Regions from separate parts of the Homo sapiens genome. Here region 2 is linked to region 1. The links come from fine-mapping of genetic effects on plasma protein levels. A gene starts in region 1. The other region holds a variant in brackets. All regions are shown on one strand. Distances are between the middles of the regions.

What was found. PIP is the posterior inclusion probability: the model's chance that the variant is causal. Protein levels are from antibody-based Olink assays in UK Biobank. Linkage for the fine-mapping came from a reference panel and not from the study's own genotypes, which makes the PIPs less certain.
Region 2: its variant is fine-mapped to the plasma level of the ERN1 protein (UK Biobank, PIP above 0.99).

The regions. Positions count from the first base shown.
Region 1 is chr17:64,126,255-64,134,586 of GRCh38, forward strand. It overlaps ERN1 (endoplasmic reticulum to nucleus signaling 1), which reads right to left and starts at 3,890. Exons shown (of 22, transcript NM_001433.5): 1 at 3,722-3,890. The coding sequence starts at 3,775. RefSeq lists silencers at 3,401-3,850, 3,941-4,070 and enhancers at 4,491-4,690, 4,741-4,790, 5,695-5,754, 7,350-7,399.
Region 2 is chr17:64,021,517-64,029,848 of GRCh38, forward strand. No RefSeq gene overlaps it. Among named protein-coding and RNA genes, the nearest start is that of ICAM2, 5.0 kb to the left of the region's middle. RefSeq lists cis regulatory regions at 2,650-3,087, 4,189-4,634 and an enhancer at 4,232-4,281. The variant T/TG (reference allele first, on the strand shown) is at 3,329.

The DNA.
Region 1 (8,332 bases):
TCTTCCCTATGTCATCTCTTTAGGGAGACATTTGATTATAAAACCTACAAAATATTGAACCTACATATTACTTTGGATCCCGAAACCAAAGAGGTTTCCTATGAAAATGAAACAGTTATCCAAGGATTCTTTCACCTGAAAAACGGAGTCCAAATCTGGGGCAGGCAAATAATGAAACCCTCAGACCTATGCAAGTGACACTATTCCATCCAGACATGAAGAAACTTTAATGCGGCTCACTAGATTTATGTTCGGAAATATGGGCTATTGTTGAACTCTCTCTCGAATAACTCTCAGATACATTTTTCTCCTGTGCTCTGAGAAGCTACATTACTGCAGAAGGCTGAATAGGCAGGCAAGTTAATGAAACAATACACATGTGCACAACTACAGTTTAATTTCATGATCAGCAGCCCTGATAACAAACTCAATGAACATTCTACTTATGGCCTCAGTATAAACACTTGATATCGCCTATTAGGATAATTAATGCAGGTGATCACTGTCAGAATAAATGATAAGCAAAGACATTGCTAGTTAAGACTCATCTATCAGATTACAGTGTTTCTATACACACATGATCCTCAGTTCTCGGTGACTTTTTAAAAACCTCCCTCTAAAACCAAAATATTGGCTAAATGAAAGAAATCTGATATCTTATAGCTTTTAAAAAAAAAGGTACTTTGCCTCACATTGTACTGATCTCTTTGGTAATTGAGAGATGTGGCACCTAAATAACCATAAAATGAGGACTGCTGACAGTGATGATGTAACCCTAACCAACTCTAGGAGCAAGATATAGGTCTAGGAAGAAAGGAAAAACTCACTGACTAAATAAGCACATTCTGGATTAACAAAAGACAGCCTCAAGTGCTTAATAATACCAATGTTATTGCGTTTTGGATCTGGTAGCCTAAAGTCTCAACTCATAATGAGTCAATGTCTGGCTCAATAAGACACACACTGAAAGAAAATCACAGTATTGCCTCCAATGCAATAGTTACTACATCAATCAAAAAGAAATATCAAAAACTATTTCTTGCAGAGGCATAGTATAACATTCAAAAAATGATGGCTTAGAGTAAAAAGCATCTTTGGAGCATAAAGAGAATTTACATTTATTATCTATTAAGCACGTGTGAAGGTGGTGCCTTCTTTCACATGTTAGCTGTCCCCATTTCACCTATCAGGAAGGAGTCTCTAAGAAGTAAAATCATGGCCGGGTGCGGTGGCTCATGCCTGTAATCCCAGCATTTTGGAAGGCCAAGGTGGGTGGATCACTTGAGGTCAGGAGTTCGAGACCAACCTGGCCAACATGGTGAAACCACGTCTCTACTAAAAATACAAAAATTAGCCGGGTGTAGTGGTGGGCTCCTGTAATCCCAGCTACTCGGGAGGCTGAGGCAGGAGAATCGCTTGAACCCGGGAGGCGGAGGTTGCAGTGAGCTGAGACCACACCATTGCACTCCAGCCTGGGCAACAAGAGCGAAGAAACTCCATATCAAAAAAAAAAAAAAAAAGAAGTAGTAGTAGTAGTAGTAAAAGAATATGCCTAGGGCACAGCTAGCAAGTGACCAGTTAGAACTCAGGTTTGTCTGATTTTATACCCACTGCGTTCTGCACATCACTGTTGCCTGGTTTAACTGCAAACTTTGCTATGAGTTTCATTTACAATTTTAAAATAATAATTCTTACTATGTTTGGGGGTAAAAACCCTTGGGAGAAAATTCTAGGAGTGAAATTCTGACCTTTCTTTTTTTTTTTTGAGACAGAGTCTTGCTCTGTCACCCAGGCTGGAGCACAGTGACTCCATCTCTGCAACCTCTGCCTCCCAGGTTCGGGTGATTCTCCTGCCTCAGCCTCCCCAGTAGCTGGGATTACAGGCCTGCGCTACCACGCCCGGCTAATTTTTTTTTTTTTTTTTTTTTGTATGTTTAGTAGAGACAAGGTTTCACCATGTTGGCCAGGCTGGTCTCAAACTCCTGACCTCAAGTGATCCACCCACCTCAGCCTCCCAAAGTGCTGGGATTACAGGCATGAGCCACCGGGCCCGGCCTGACCTTTCACCTAAATATAGTTACGCTAAACTATAACCTTTTGATAAGGGTCTGGAATATTTTATCATGAACTCTGAGAAGTTTGGATTTCTAAATACAAATTGGAAATATTTACACGAACTGAAACTATAGTTCCAACTACAGCTAAATCGTTATTTTTGGCTCTTTAGCCTAAGTTATTCAATAACCAAACACTAGAATCCAGTGACAAAGTAGCAAAAGGAAAGATGTGGCAAAGGAAACCATTATACACCTATCCCTTGACGTTATGAAATGATCGAATTCATGTCAAACATTTGGTCATTCTGCTTATACCTTCGTTTGTGAACAGATGCCAGGCAGTAGTTACCAATCCAAGGTGAGGTGCTCAAGTTCAAAACCTGACCTTAGTTGTAAAAGTGGGGTTTTTATTTGAAAGAAAAACTTAACTTCCACAAGTTCTATTATAAAGAGTCTACAAATTTTCCTTTATTTAAAAAAAAAAACCCTGAATTTGAAAAAGGCAACCTTATTTATTTACTTCTCCTGTTTCCAAATTCTTGTTACTCCAAGAGTACAGACAGTTATTTACCTAAAATGCAAAACCTCCAAAGAGTTCACACGGTGGCTGGCACTCAGGCACACACATGTCAGTGCTCTACTGGGACACCTGGTACATGATATCCCTATTAAAGAGTACACAGTACCTTTAAAGAGGTCATTAAACAGAACACGGACAAATTTGCCACGCTCACATCCTGAACAATACATTTTGTGAAAAACATTCGCTAATTTAGGTTCTTCCAACCAGAAGAAAAAAAAAAGCCAAGTCTCCCACAAAGTGCCCCCAAATCCACAGCTGAGTGAAGGTCATAAAGAGTTAAATGAATGTAAACCAGGCCCTATCATTCGTCTCCTCCAGAAAAAGATGAAAAGACATTTCTGATGGCCCCAGGTGCTCTCCCACGAGGAGACAGTCTTTCATTTGAGGTTCTGAAGCGGCCTCACCTCGAACCCATGCGGGATCTTCCAAGAGTGCAATTCCCACAGCTCCACTTGCTCAAGGAAGTCTCGGTGCACAGAAGGAAGCCTGCAGCCTCCCAGTACCAAGAAACCGGCAGGGCAAGTGGCAGAAGCCAGCTCTCGGGTGAGAGTCCTTACTCCCTGTTGCATTCGTTCCCCAAAGTTTTCGAATTTTTAAAAAGTTCAAACAAGGATTCGAAGCGCAGGACAGACCCTTCCCCTGGATCCCAACGCCCTTTCGGCTCCTCCGCGGCCCCCGCCAGGCAGCGCCGGCGCCCGCCCGCGAGGAGGAGGGTCCCGCAGGTGGGCGGCCTCCTCAGGCCGGGGCCTTCTGGGACCCCCAAGTGCCGTGCAGGACGCCACGAAGTTGCGCCCGAGCCCGCGGGGTCCGGGGAGCCGCTGCCCGTGACAGCCGCGCTGGCTTGGGAGGCTCTTCGGGCGGCCGACGCCTCGGTGGGGCCGCGACTCCCGTCAGGGAAGCTCTCCCGGCCCGGTGCCGCCTCCTACGCCCGGCCCGAGCCTCCCACGGCTGGGCTCACGGGGCATCTGGCCGCCGCCGTCGCGCTCCCAGCTCGGACTCCAGCCCCGGCGCCGCGACGCTGCCCCGGCCCCGACCCGGCCGTCGCGAGCTGTCCTCCACCCCACGCTCCCCGGTCACTCACCCCGAGGCCGGGCAGCAGCAGCGTCAGCAGCAGCAGCAGCCGCCGGGCCGGCATGGCGAGGACTCGGCCCTGGCTCCGGGGGCGGTACGGACAGAGGACGGGGCGGGGGCGCCGCGACGACAGCGAGGCGGTGACCGAGCCTCAGCGGACGCAGAACTGACTAGGCAGCGGCGGCACCCCCATTCCCGGCCCTATAAGCGCTGGGTGCCGCGGCTTCTTCCGGTCGGGGCGGAGTTGCGGGCGGGGACGGGGCGGGGCCAATCTAGGGGCGTGTTCGGGGCGGAGATGGGGGCGGGCCGAGGGCGTGCCCCGGGCGGGGATGTGGGAGGGGCTGGCTCGGGGCGGGGCCGAAGGCGGTGCTGGCATCTGGCTGGCTTCGCTCATGAGGCGTCGGCGGCTGTAAAGGACCAGGCCTCGGCATCCAGCGTCTGGGGGCGCTGGGGGATCGAGGCGCGAAGCTTGTCTGTGGCTGGGAAAGACCGGCAATGCCCCACCAGGCCGTCCCATTAACCCTGCCGAGGGACCTGCCGCGTCAGACTTCATCGGGGAAAAGGGCGGGACACGGGCGGTCCCGGGTGCCTAGAAGCCTCCTTTTCGTCTTTCCGCCGTGGTGGAATCATCCGCAAGGTTTACCGAGGCGACCTCCGGAGCGAAGGTTTCAGCAGCTACCGGAGGCTTCCAGCAAACACGGCGCAGCTGCCCCGCGCGGCAGTCGCAGTGTTCACAGCCCTAGGGTTCTCCAGCTGTGCCTCGTCTTCTCTGGGGCCCCTTTCTTCCTTTTCCTTGCCCTCAGGAATTCCCCTCAAGTCATATCCACCAGCCATCACTTCCGCTTGGAATGAACCACGGCCAAGTCACTCACCAAAAATTATAAGGAGGAAACCATTTCGGCCACTTGTGTCACGTGCGTTGATGTGACACGTGTGGATGTGAAGTTTGAGATGGTCTGCGTCACAACTCGTTGGAGGGAGTGGGTGGGTTGAGGCCTCCTGCAAGGTCTATGTGAGGGTGTGGAGTACTAATTAGAGTTAAAGAGCTCGGCAGCTGTTTGGTCACTGGCACTGGCCTCCACTGAGAGGGACATGGGTAGGGAGGACACGTCTTTTGCAAGGAAAGACAGTAAACTGAGATTTGGAGCCCAGGGAAAGGTATCTAACTTATCCTAGGAGAAAAAGAAAACGGCTATGAAATTCTCTAATTTTTCCTGACTTGCTTATATGAGAGCCTAAGATTTTTCAGGTTTGAAGGAAAAGAATAAGCACTCCTAGACAAAACAACAAAGTAGTAGTGGGGGACTGGCCAAATGTCCAGTCTGTGTGCATTGTGGTCAATCTTATCCAACTAAAACAGACCAAAATGACAGTAAGCCCAAATCCTGCAAATAGAGCTCCCCATTCCTAACCCCCTAGGCCTGGATTACAGTGAAGGGACTAAGTCCTACCGCATGCTGGAGACTCCAACACATCTCTGTAAGAGTGGGAAGAATCTTGGCAACTGTGAAAACAGTAGAGACATTTTGAAAAGTGTTACCTGAATGTCTAAATGCAAACAGAGGTTTGGGATTGGCAGAGAGATGTACTGAGAGGCCCAGCACTCCTGAGCAGTATAGCCGGGCTTCCAGGGAGGCCTACAGCCCTGAAACTGGGAGGAGCTCTTTATTTCTTGACCTTTTATCTTTTCTTTTTAGAGATGAGGTCTCACGGTGTTGCCCAGGCTGCTCTCAAACTCCTGGGCTCAAGAGATCCTCCCCAGTAGCTGGGACTTCAGGTGTGCCCCACGACACCTGGCTTGGGAGGACCTCTTTAGTGATTACCTGTCCAGTTTGCCAGCTGACAACAGCATCTGTTAGACCCTGTATACTTGACTTAAAAGAGAAGCTTGACTGAAAAATGTCACTTTCACATCCCCCCCTCTGGTGCTTTTTCTCAAACAGAGTAAGTCTAGGAGGGGAAAATTTGCTGTACTGGAACTCTGGCAGCCCTTTTACAATTCAAAATGTCACTGTGACCCTGTAACATCAGCAGATGAAACACAAAGGGGAATGCTGACCTCAATTTCACTCATAAATCAGTTTTAAAGATCGTAGAAAGAAAAAAAATCTGTTCCAAGAAGCCTGGACAGTTAGGTATTATTTATCTTACACTCAGTTGGACCAAATCCCCAGGGCTTAATTGCACTGTTACATGTTCTCTGAATTTCTTTCTTTTTTTTTTTTTTTTGAGACAGAGTTTCACTCTTTTGCCCAGGCTAGAGTGCAGTGGCACGATCGTGGCTCACTGCAACCTCTGCCTTTTCGGTTTCAAGCGATTCTCCTGCCTGAGACTCCCGAGTAGCTGGGATTACAGGTGCCTGCCACCACGCCTGGCTAATTTTTGTATTTTTATAGAGACGGGGTTTCACCATGTTGGCCAGGCTGGTCTCGAACTCCTGACCTCGTGATCTGCCCACCTCCGCCTCCTAAAGTGCTGGGATTACAGGCGTGAGCCACTGTGCCCGGCCCCATTCTCTGAATTTCTTATGCATCGTCCACATGCTTCATGCACTTCTTCACTTGATTGGCAATCCAGACAGATAAGCACTGGTTTTATTTATGGTGGCATTGCCCATAATCTTGCTCTACAGTCAAGTACTTCTTTAGGCAGCTTTTTGCTTATGATAAAGTAAAAGCTGATAGCACTGATAAACACAAACAGAAATGGAATATTTTGTAGGGTGCCTTTGAAGTGGACCTGACCATATAAAAGACCTGCAAATGGGCAGTAAATGACCTTTCTGCAAGTCACATTAAATAACATCCACTGAATAAAGCAAAGGTCATGGTCTTAGTGTAAAGATAAGGCCTCTTTTCCACCAGTGTAAGAAACATATATACATCAGATTCAACAAAGAAGTACAGCAGGATCTGACTATGGGGAGGTGGGAGAAAATCTTATTTTCACTTCCCTTTAAACCACTGGTTCCCAAACTTGGAGAGCTAAAAAAACAAAACAAAACAACAACAACAAAAAACAGATTTCCAGGCCAGGCATGGTGGCTCACGCCTGTAATCCCAGCACTTTGGGAGGCCGAAGCAGGAGGATTGCTTGAGATCAAGACCAGCCTAGGGAACATGGTGAGACCCTGTTTCTGTAAAAAAAAAAAAACAAAAAACCAAAAAATTAGTCAGGCATAGTGGTTCACACCTGTAGTTCCAGTGACTTGGGAAGCTGAGGTGGGAGGATGGCTTGAGCCCAGGAGGTCAAGGCTGCAGTGAGCTTTGATCGTGCCATGGCACTCCAGCCTGGACGACAGAGCAAGACCCTGTCTCAAAAAAATAGAAATAAAAAGCTGGGCATGGTGGCTCACACCTGTAATCCCAGCACTTTGGGAGGACGAGGCAGGTGGATCACGAGGTCAGGAGTTCAAGACCAACCAGCCTGAGCAACATGGTGAAACCCTGTCTCTACTAAAAAAACAAAAATTAGCCGGGCGTGGTGGTGTGCGCCTGTAGTCCCAGCTACTTGGGAGGCTGAGGGAGAAAAATCTCTTGAACCCGGGAGGCAGAGGTTGCAGTGAGCCAAGACTGCGCCACTGCACTCCAGTCTGGGCGACAGAGTGAGACTCCATCTCAAAAAACAAACAAAAAAAAAGAAATTAAAAACATATTTCCAATAACTTCTTGTACCCCTTTCCCTGACTGATTCACAATGTCCAGGGGCAGAGCCCAGAGACCTGTGCGTTTTGCAGTTTCCACCGTACACTGAAGGCAGTCAAGATCCAGGGCTCCAGCTCAATCATGATGTCCAGCCTTCATCCCTGCAACCATGAATCCCTTTTAGTTTAGCAAATATCGCCCTCTAGTGTAATAAATTATGACCCAAAAAAGGAGCTTGTGCCTGTCTCATTTGTGTTTAAAACCCTTCAAAATCTCATTTAAAAATGCTTGTGAGGTTGATTTGCAGATAGCTAGTGACAGGATAGATACCTTTGAAGGCGGAGACTTGAAAGAAAAATCTAGTAAAACCAGAAAGAAAGGTCATGGTTGAAAACTCCAGTAACATTTCAAAGGAATAGTATCTTTATCAGAATAAATCAAGTCAGTTTTTTTGTTGTTGTTGTTTTTAGTGATATCGCTGCTGCTGCTTCTTGAACTGAACCTACAGAGTGTGTGGAAGTAGTTATGGGATAAATATTAATACAACCATAAAGGGGCAAGGCGCTGTGACTTACACCTGTAATCCCGCACTTTGGGAGGCTGAGGTGGCGGGTATCTTCAGCCTAAGAGTTTGAAACCAGTCTGGGCAACATAGTGACACTTTGTCCCTACAAAAAAATAAAATAATTAGCCAGGTGCCATGGTGCACACCTGTAGTCCCAGCTACTCTGGAAGCTGAGGTGAGAGGATTGCTTGAGCCTGAGAGGTGGAGGCTGCAGTGAGCTGTCATAGCACCACTGCACTCCAGCCTGGGCAGCAGAGCGAGACCCTGTCTCAAAACAAACAAACAAACAAACACAAAAAACAATGAAGCAAGAGTCTCTGATAGCAAGCTAAATTCTCATCTCCGTCCTCCCGTCACGTTTAAGGGACATTTTAAAAGTTGTTCTCACTGTGAACACTTTGGTTTTTAGGTA
Region 2 (8,332 bases), 100 kb before region 1:
CTGGAGTGCAGTGGTGTGATCTTGGCTCACTGTAACCTCTGCCTCCCAGGTTCAAACGATTCTCTTGCCTCAGTGTTTTTGTTGTTGTTGTTGTTGTTTGTTTGTTTGTTTGTTTTGTAGAGATGGAGCCTCACTCTGTCGCCCAGGCTGGAGTGCTGGAGTGCAGTGGTGTGATCTCGGCTCACTGCAACCTCCGCCTCCCGAGTTCAAGCAATTCTCCTGCCTCAGCCTCCTGAGTAGCTGGGACTACAGGTGCACGCCACCACGCCTGGTTAATTTCTTTTGTATTTTAGCAGAGATGGGGTTTCACCATGTTGCCTAGGCTGGTCTCAAACTCTTGAGCTCAGGCAATCCGCCCGCCTTGGCCTCCCAAAGTGTTGGGATTACAGGCATGAGCCACCGTGCCTGGCCTTGCCTCAGCCTCTTGAGTAGCTGGGATTACAGGCACGTGCCGACTGGCTAATTTTTGTATTTTTAGTAGAGATGGGGTTTCATCATGTCGGCCAGGCTGGTCTCGAACTCCTGACCTCAAATGATCCGCCCACCTCAGCCTCCCAAAGTGCTGGTATTACAGGCATGAACCACCACGCTTGGCCAGAACTGCCTTCCTTTTGAAGGCTGAGCAATATCCTATTGTGCGTGTGTGCCGCATTCTGTTCATGCATTCATATACTGATGGACACCTGTGTTGCTTCCACCTTTGGCTATTGTGAATAGTGCTGCTACAAACAGGGTTGTACAAATACCTGCTCAAGACTCTGCTTTCAGTTCTCTGGGGTATGTACCCAGAAGTGGAAATGCTGGATCATAATGGTAAAATATACACAACAAAATCTACCATCTTAACCTTTTTTCTTTTTTTTTTTTAGTGGTAATTCTGACTGGGCTTGGTGGCTCACACTTGTAAATCCGGCACTTTGGGAGGCTGAGGTGGGAGGATTGCTTGAGTCTAGGACTTCAAGACCAGCCTGGGTGACAAAGTGAGACCCCATCGCTACAAAAAAAAAAAAAAGTAATTTTGTTTAATTTTTGAAGATTTGCCATCCTGTTTTCCTTACTCCTCCCTTTGATGTGCAGTTTCTGTACTCACTGGGGCCTTCTGTGAATGAGGCAGTTCCAGGACAAGCTACCTTCTGGTCCCCCAAGTGAGGCAGGCGAAGATCACAGAGCTGAGGCTTCCTTGGCTGTGACACACCATTCCAAAAAAGCCTCTTATTAGTGACTAAGACCTATCACTTCATCAAATCTTATCAGACCTGCCACCTTGCCTAGCAATTTTACAACAATTACTCTAGAAGAGTGACTTTGTACAAACAAGCAGAAAGTATGAACACTGGGTGCAGAGGTGGGTGGCGGGCAGCCAGCTAGGCTCACCCACGAGCAGAGGATCTTGCTCCCACGGGCCAGCCTCACAGCACATTGAAACTTCTGGCTTAGCAAAGTCACAAATTAGACCATTCAGAGGCCAGGAGGACAGTCAAGGCCACACATTGCTCTGGCGCAATTTCTCTTGGTGCTTGTGTGCATCAATTTCTTCAGCTCAGTTCTTTTTGGAATCTCCTTGTCATACTGCTGGCAAAACAGAGCCAATATAAAATGACTATGGTGGGAAGGAGGCAGCAGGGCCCAGAGCTTTGAAGGGCCCACGTGACTTTAATGTTTTGGTGGCATCTGTCATAGACACAAATGGGGGTGGATGTCCCATTTGGGACAATTTCTCCAGGAGCCATGTTTGGACTCACCCTTTTTTAAAGATAACCCCTTCTTTTTCTACTTTAGACAAGTTTTTTGGGAAGCTTCCATCTTCCTACTCAGCTCCACCTTCCTGGTCAAATGATTGGTCCAAGGTTGGCATCATGGTACCTCACCTTCTGGCTCTTTCTTTTTTTTATCCTTTTTTTTTCCTTTCTTTTTGAGACAGAGTCTTGCTCTATCGCCCAGGCTGGAGGACAGTGATGGTGTGATCTCAGCTCACTGCAACCTCTGCCTCCCAGGTTCAAGGGATTCTCCTGCCTCAACCTCCTGAGTAGATGGGATTACAGGCATCTGCCACCATGTCCACCTAATTTTTGTATTTTTAGTAGAGACGGGGTTTCACCATATTGGCCAGGCTGGTCTTGAACTCTTGACCTCAAGTGATCTGCCTGCCTCGGCCTTCCAAAGTGCTGGGATTACAGGAGTGAGCCACTGTGCCTGGCCAGAACTGCCTTCCTTTTGAAGGCTGAGTAATATTTTATTGTGCGTGTGTGCTGCATTCTGTTCATCCATTCATATATTGAGGGACACCTGTGTTGCTTCCACCTTTGGCTATTGTGAATAGTGCTGCTATCAACAGGGTTGTACAAATACCTGATCGAGACTCTGCTTTCAATTCTCTGGGGCATGTACCCAGAAGTGGAAATGCTGGATCATACTGGTAAAATATACACAACAAAATTTACCATCTTAACCTTTTTTCTTTTTTTCAGTGGTAATTCTGGCTGAGGTGAGTGGCTCACACCTGTAAATCCAGCACTTTGGGAGGCTGAGATGGGAGAATTGCTTGAGCCTAGGACTTCAAGACCAGTCTGGGTGACAAAGTGAGACCCCGTTTCTACAAAAAAAAAAAATTAAAAAGGTAATTTTGTTTAATTTTTGAGGATTCACCATCTTGTTTTCCTTACTCCTCCCTTTGATGTGCAGTTTCTGTACTCAATGGGGTCTTCTGTGAATGAGGCAGTTCCAAGACAAGCTGCCTTCTGGTCCCCCAAGTGAGGCAGGCGAAGATCACAGAGCTGAGCCTTCGCTGGCTGTGACACGCCACTCCACAAAAGCCTCTTATTAGCGACTAAGAGCCATTACGTCATCAAATCTTATCAGACCTGCCACCTTGCCTAGCAATTTTACAACAATTACTCTAGAAGAATGACTTTGTACAAACAAGCAGAAAGTATGAACGCTGGCCATCTATGCAAGTTTTAACAATCCAGGTGCTAGATCCACCCAGAACTTGCAGATTACCCTGTGTACCCACTTCGTGAGCTGCACACACAGTCCTGCTGTTCTGTTGTGTAGCCAGAGTTGAGACCCCTTTACGTACTTCCTCAGGCAACATTTGGGCCAAATCCCACTCTGGAAACCTCCTCCCTCAACTTTGTGGCCTCTGAGCAGATCACTTTCCATTTCCATTTATTTCTTTTTCTTCTTTGCTTGGTTTCTGGCACATTCCTCTTTGAACTGCCAAGATCATGCTAGGTAAATGTTTATTGAATGTAAGCTAGCAGCTTGGTTTTAGGAGACACATATTTTATAGCAAGGGGTTTCAAACTTGAACGTGTGTCAGGATCAC[T/TG]GGGGGGCTTGCCGCAACAGCCCACCGGGCCCCATCCCTAGAGTTCCTGAGTAGTAGGTCTGGAGGGAGGCCTGAGAATTTTTTGCATTTCTAACAGGTTCCCAGGTAATGACGCTGCTGCTGGCATCAGTATCACCCGGGAACTTCTTAGAAATGAGGACCACACTGTTTCAGCGGAATACGAAAGTGTTCTCAATTCACATAGCGTCCAGCTAATCAAAACCACAAGTAGAAACTAGAGGTGTCACCAGCCTATAGACTGACTAACAGAGACTGTGAGCTCAGTCTGGCAGAGTGGAATTATAAGGCTGTGTGACCTTGAGCAAGTTGTGTAACCTCTCTGACCTTCAGTTTGCTTATCTGCAAAATGGGATAATAATAATAGCCAACGTTTGTGACATGCTTACTACATATGCCACACACTGTTCTAAGCACTCCACAGTAAGTATCATCACATTTCATCCTCATAACAAGCCTATGACTCGATACTGTTGTTATGCCTCTTACAGATGAAGAACGTGAGACATGGTACAGTAGATGGCGGGCAGTAGCTGGCACACAGCCAGCAAGAGGCTGAACCAAGATTCCAATCCAGGCAGTTGGGACCCAACGTCTGAGCTTTCATACTAGGGAGCCCCTCTCACCCCCTTCAGACCCCCCCTCAAGGGCTTCTGAGAGGAAAGTGTGATGATTTGTAAAACGCTGGCTGATAGCCTGGTACACGGAAGCACTCAACAAAGTTTGTGGTTATTGTGAGTTGGTGCCCGGACGTGCACCTATCTGTGTCCTTGTAGGCTGTGCCCAAGGACATCCCAGCACGTGTGTTGACTATTGCACAGATCCACAGAATATCAGACCCCAAAATCATGCCCGTTGGACAGGAGGGGGCTGTCCATATTATGTAATGTGTTAATTCTTGGGTCCTTGGATGGGACAAGGTTGTGAATATGCATCACTTAGAAAACTTATCAGCGAGCGAGGAATGGAGTTGTTTACAAAACCAAGCCCTTGACGTCTTCCTGGACCTCAACCTCATCTCATCAGCTCCCCCTACGGAGTGGGGCGGAGGCGGCGGAAACGCTGAACGCTCAGGGTCGACAGGAGCAGGGGCTGCACTGCCCGCCACCTAGTGGCCAAAGTGAGCAGGTCCCCTAAAAGACACGACGCCCCGCGATCTGCGGTAAATCACATTCCTTGCGATTCTGCAATCACAGGTAGATTTGGAATGGGCTAGGATCCCCTGAGAGACTGTTTATAAGGAGGGCGGTCTATGTAGATGCACTAATTTGAGGGAGGGAGAGCGTGGGAGGGTCTCTGCGGAGGAGAGATGCTTTCTCTCTGGAAACCCTGGACGTGAAGGCACCTGCCAGCTGCCATTTTTCTTGCTCTAAGCTTTTCTGCAAAGGAGGGAATAAAACTGAGATGCTTTACTAGGAACTCAGGTGGGAAAATAAACAGTTTCCTTAGGAAAGATGCCAGAGGCAGGGAGCAGAGGCAAAATCCAAGAGAGAGATGAGGTTGTTTTTTGTTTTTGTTTTTGTTCGTTTTAAATCAATTTGGGCCGGGCGCGGTGGCTCACGCCTGTAATCCCAGCACTTTGGGAGGCCGAGGCGGGCAGATCACAAGGTCAGGAGTCTGAGATCAGCTTGGCCAATATGGTGAAACCCCGTCTCTACTAAAACTACAAATATATATACATATCTATATGTACATACATATATATACACACACATATATATACATATACACACACATATATATACATATATATACACATATATATACACACACATATATATATACATATACACACACATATATATACATATATATACACACATATATATACACATATATATATACACATATATATACACACACACACATATATATATATATATTAGCCAGGCGTGGTGGCACGCACCTGTAGTCCCAGCTACTCGGGAGGCTGAGGCAGAAGAATCACTTGAACCCAGGAGGCGGAGGATGCAGTGAGCCGAGATCGCCCCGCTGCACTGCAGCCTGAGCCACAGAACGGGACTCCGTCTAAAAAAATAAATAAAAAACAAATATTTCCCCACTCTGCCACATCGAGAGGCCGGCATGGTTCACCCGTGGGAGGGGAGGAGCAGGTGTGCTAAGCAGTAGCTGTGGTTTTAAAATGTTTTTCTTTTCACCATCATCCTTCTTTATCCCTCAGTTTCTTCCCTCTGCAGCCCCGGAAGAAGGAGGTGGGCCGTTCTCGCATTGCTGTAAAGGAATACCTCAGACTGGGTAATTTATAAAGGAAGAGGATTCATTGGCTCACAGTTCTGCAGGCTGTACAGGAAGCGTAGCAGCATCTGCTTCTTGGAAGGCCTCAGGAAGCTCCCGATCATGGCAGAAGGCAAAGAGGGAGCAGATGCATCACACGGCGAAAGCAGGAGCAACAGGAGCAGGAGGTGCCACACACTTTTTTTTTTTTTTTTTTTTTGAGATGGAGTCTCGCTCTGTCGCCCAGACTGGATGAAGTGGCGCGATCTTGGCTCACTGTAACCTCTGCCGCCTGGGTTCAAGCGATTCTAGTGCCTCATCCTCCCGAGTAGCTGGGAGGCCTCCACAATCACCGATCACTGTGTCCAAGGGAGAAGGTGCTGGAGGAGCGTGTTCTGCTCCTCAAGACTGTGGCTCAGAAGCAACACATGTCTCTTCTACTCCCATTGGCCAGAATTAGTCACATGGCCCCAACCTAACTGCAGTGGTGGCTGAGAGTGTTGTCTTCCTGAGTACCCAGAAAGAGGAAAATGCAAAAAGATTTGGTGAAAATATAGCATTGTCTTTGCCATAACAAACATACTTCCTTTGTTGATTTTTTTAAATCAAAGGCAATAATTGGAGATAAATGTGTTATATCTCCTCTTGGAGAATATTTTGTTGTCATGTTAAAAGCCTCTGAAAAGTCTTGCTGTAAATATGGAACTTTTATTTAATCTGGCATTTCCCAGATTTGGTGATTGAGGCCTTTTAAATAATTTAATAGCTTTGGAATTAATATTTGGAGATATAAACTTTGGGAAATTGCCCTAAATGTGTCAACTGGTGAGTCCAAATCTGTGGGGGGAAAATGATGAGCAAAGAGATGAGTAATGTGTTCTACAAAAGTAGAGGACAGTCAGGTGCAGTGGCTCAGGCCTGTAATCTCAGCACTTTGGGAGGCTGAGGTGGGCAGATCACCTGTTAGGAGTTCAAGACCAGCCTGGCCAACATGGTGAAACCCTGTTTCTACTAAAAATATAAAAATTAGCCGGGGGTTGTGGCGGACACCTGTAATCCCAGCTTCTAGGGAGGCTGAGGCAGGGGAATCACTTGAACCTGGGAGGTGGAGGTTGCAGTGAGCAGAGATCACGCCACTGCACTCCAGCCTGGGCAACAGAGCAAGACTCTGTCTCAAAAAAAAAAAAAAAAAAAAAGTAAGGAATGAATTAGACCTGGGGCTGAGAGAGGGAGAGGATAACACTGGGGAAAATTTTCCTGAGATGGGAAAGGCCTGGGAAACAATGACAGGCTCAGAGCAGAGGGTGATTCAGCCCAGGCCACAAGCTTGAGGGCCCTGGAGCAGATGCAGCTATAAACCAGGAGAGTCGGTGCAGCCAATGTCAAGAGCTGGGAGGCTTGTTTGGTGCCGACTCGTAGCCCTGTGTAGCTAGAGGAATCTTAGGGCTCATTCAAACTGCCTTCTTCATGTTATAGACAAGAAGGGTAGGGGCTTAGAAAAATGTAGTTTTTTATTCTTAAAGTAATTCATATTCATGAAAGACAATCTGAACTAAGCACAAAGAAGATTAAAAAAAAAAACAACCACCATATTCTGGTCAGGTGCGATGGTTCATGCCTGTAATTCCAGCACTTTGGGAGGCTGACACAGGTAGATTGCTTGAGCCCAGAAGTTTGAGACCAGCCTGGTCAACAGAATGAGACCCCATCTCTAAAAAAGAATTTATAAATTAGCTGGGCATAGTGGCACTTGCCTGTAGTCCCAGCTACTCAGAAGGCTAAGGTGGGAGGATCACCTGAACCCAGGAGGTTGAGGCTGTAGTAAGCTGTGATCCCACCACTGCACTCCAGCCTAGGGGGGCAACAGAGCAAGACCTTGTCTCAAAAAATATATAAATATAAATAAAAACATATTCCACCTTGTAAAGGTTAAGTGTTTTATTCTGGAGGAGACAACTGCCACCAGGTGGCACTAAACCTAGCTGGCCTGGGCTGATGGGGAACCCCAGCTGTGCAGGCTCTCCAAGGCCACTCATTAACCTCAAAATAAGGCAGCTCCGCAAATCATATGGTTGTATTTCTGGACCCCACTTACTGGTTATGAAAATATTTTACCATTTATTTGATCGGTCTTTCTAATTGTGCTGTACAAATCTTCCACATCTTAAATTTTTGGGGGTCTATTTGATCAGTGAGAAAAATGGTTAAAATATCCATTGTTGACAATTTTTCCTTGTAGTTCAGTTTTTGCCTTATATATTTTGAAGCTATGTTGTTAGGTGTCTAAGGATTCGTGCCTTATATGTTCTATTCAGTTATTTTTTTTGATAAAAATGAAATATCTTTTTCTGTCCCATTCAATCCTTTTCTTTTTGAATTCTGTCTATAGCCAGCCATAGCACTCTGAACATGCCTGATCTTGTCTGAATTCTATAGAATCTGATTGGTATTGCTAAACCAGCATTTTGTTAATATTTGTTTGCTACATCTTTTTCTATGTATTTATTTAAAAAAAAAAAAAATTTTGAGACAGGGTCTCACTCTGTTGCCCAGGCTGGAGTGCAGTGGCACCATCATGGCTCACAGCAGCCTAGGCCTCCCCAGGCTCACGTAACCTCAACCTCAACCTCCCAAGCAGCTGGGACTACAGGTGCACACCACCACACCAGCTAATTTTTGTATTTTTTTGTAGAGACAAGGTCTCCCTGTGTTGCCCAGGCTGGTCTTGAACTCCTGGGCTCAAGCAAATCC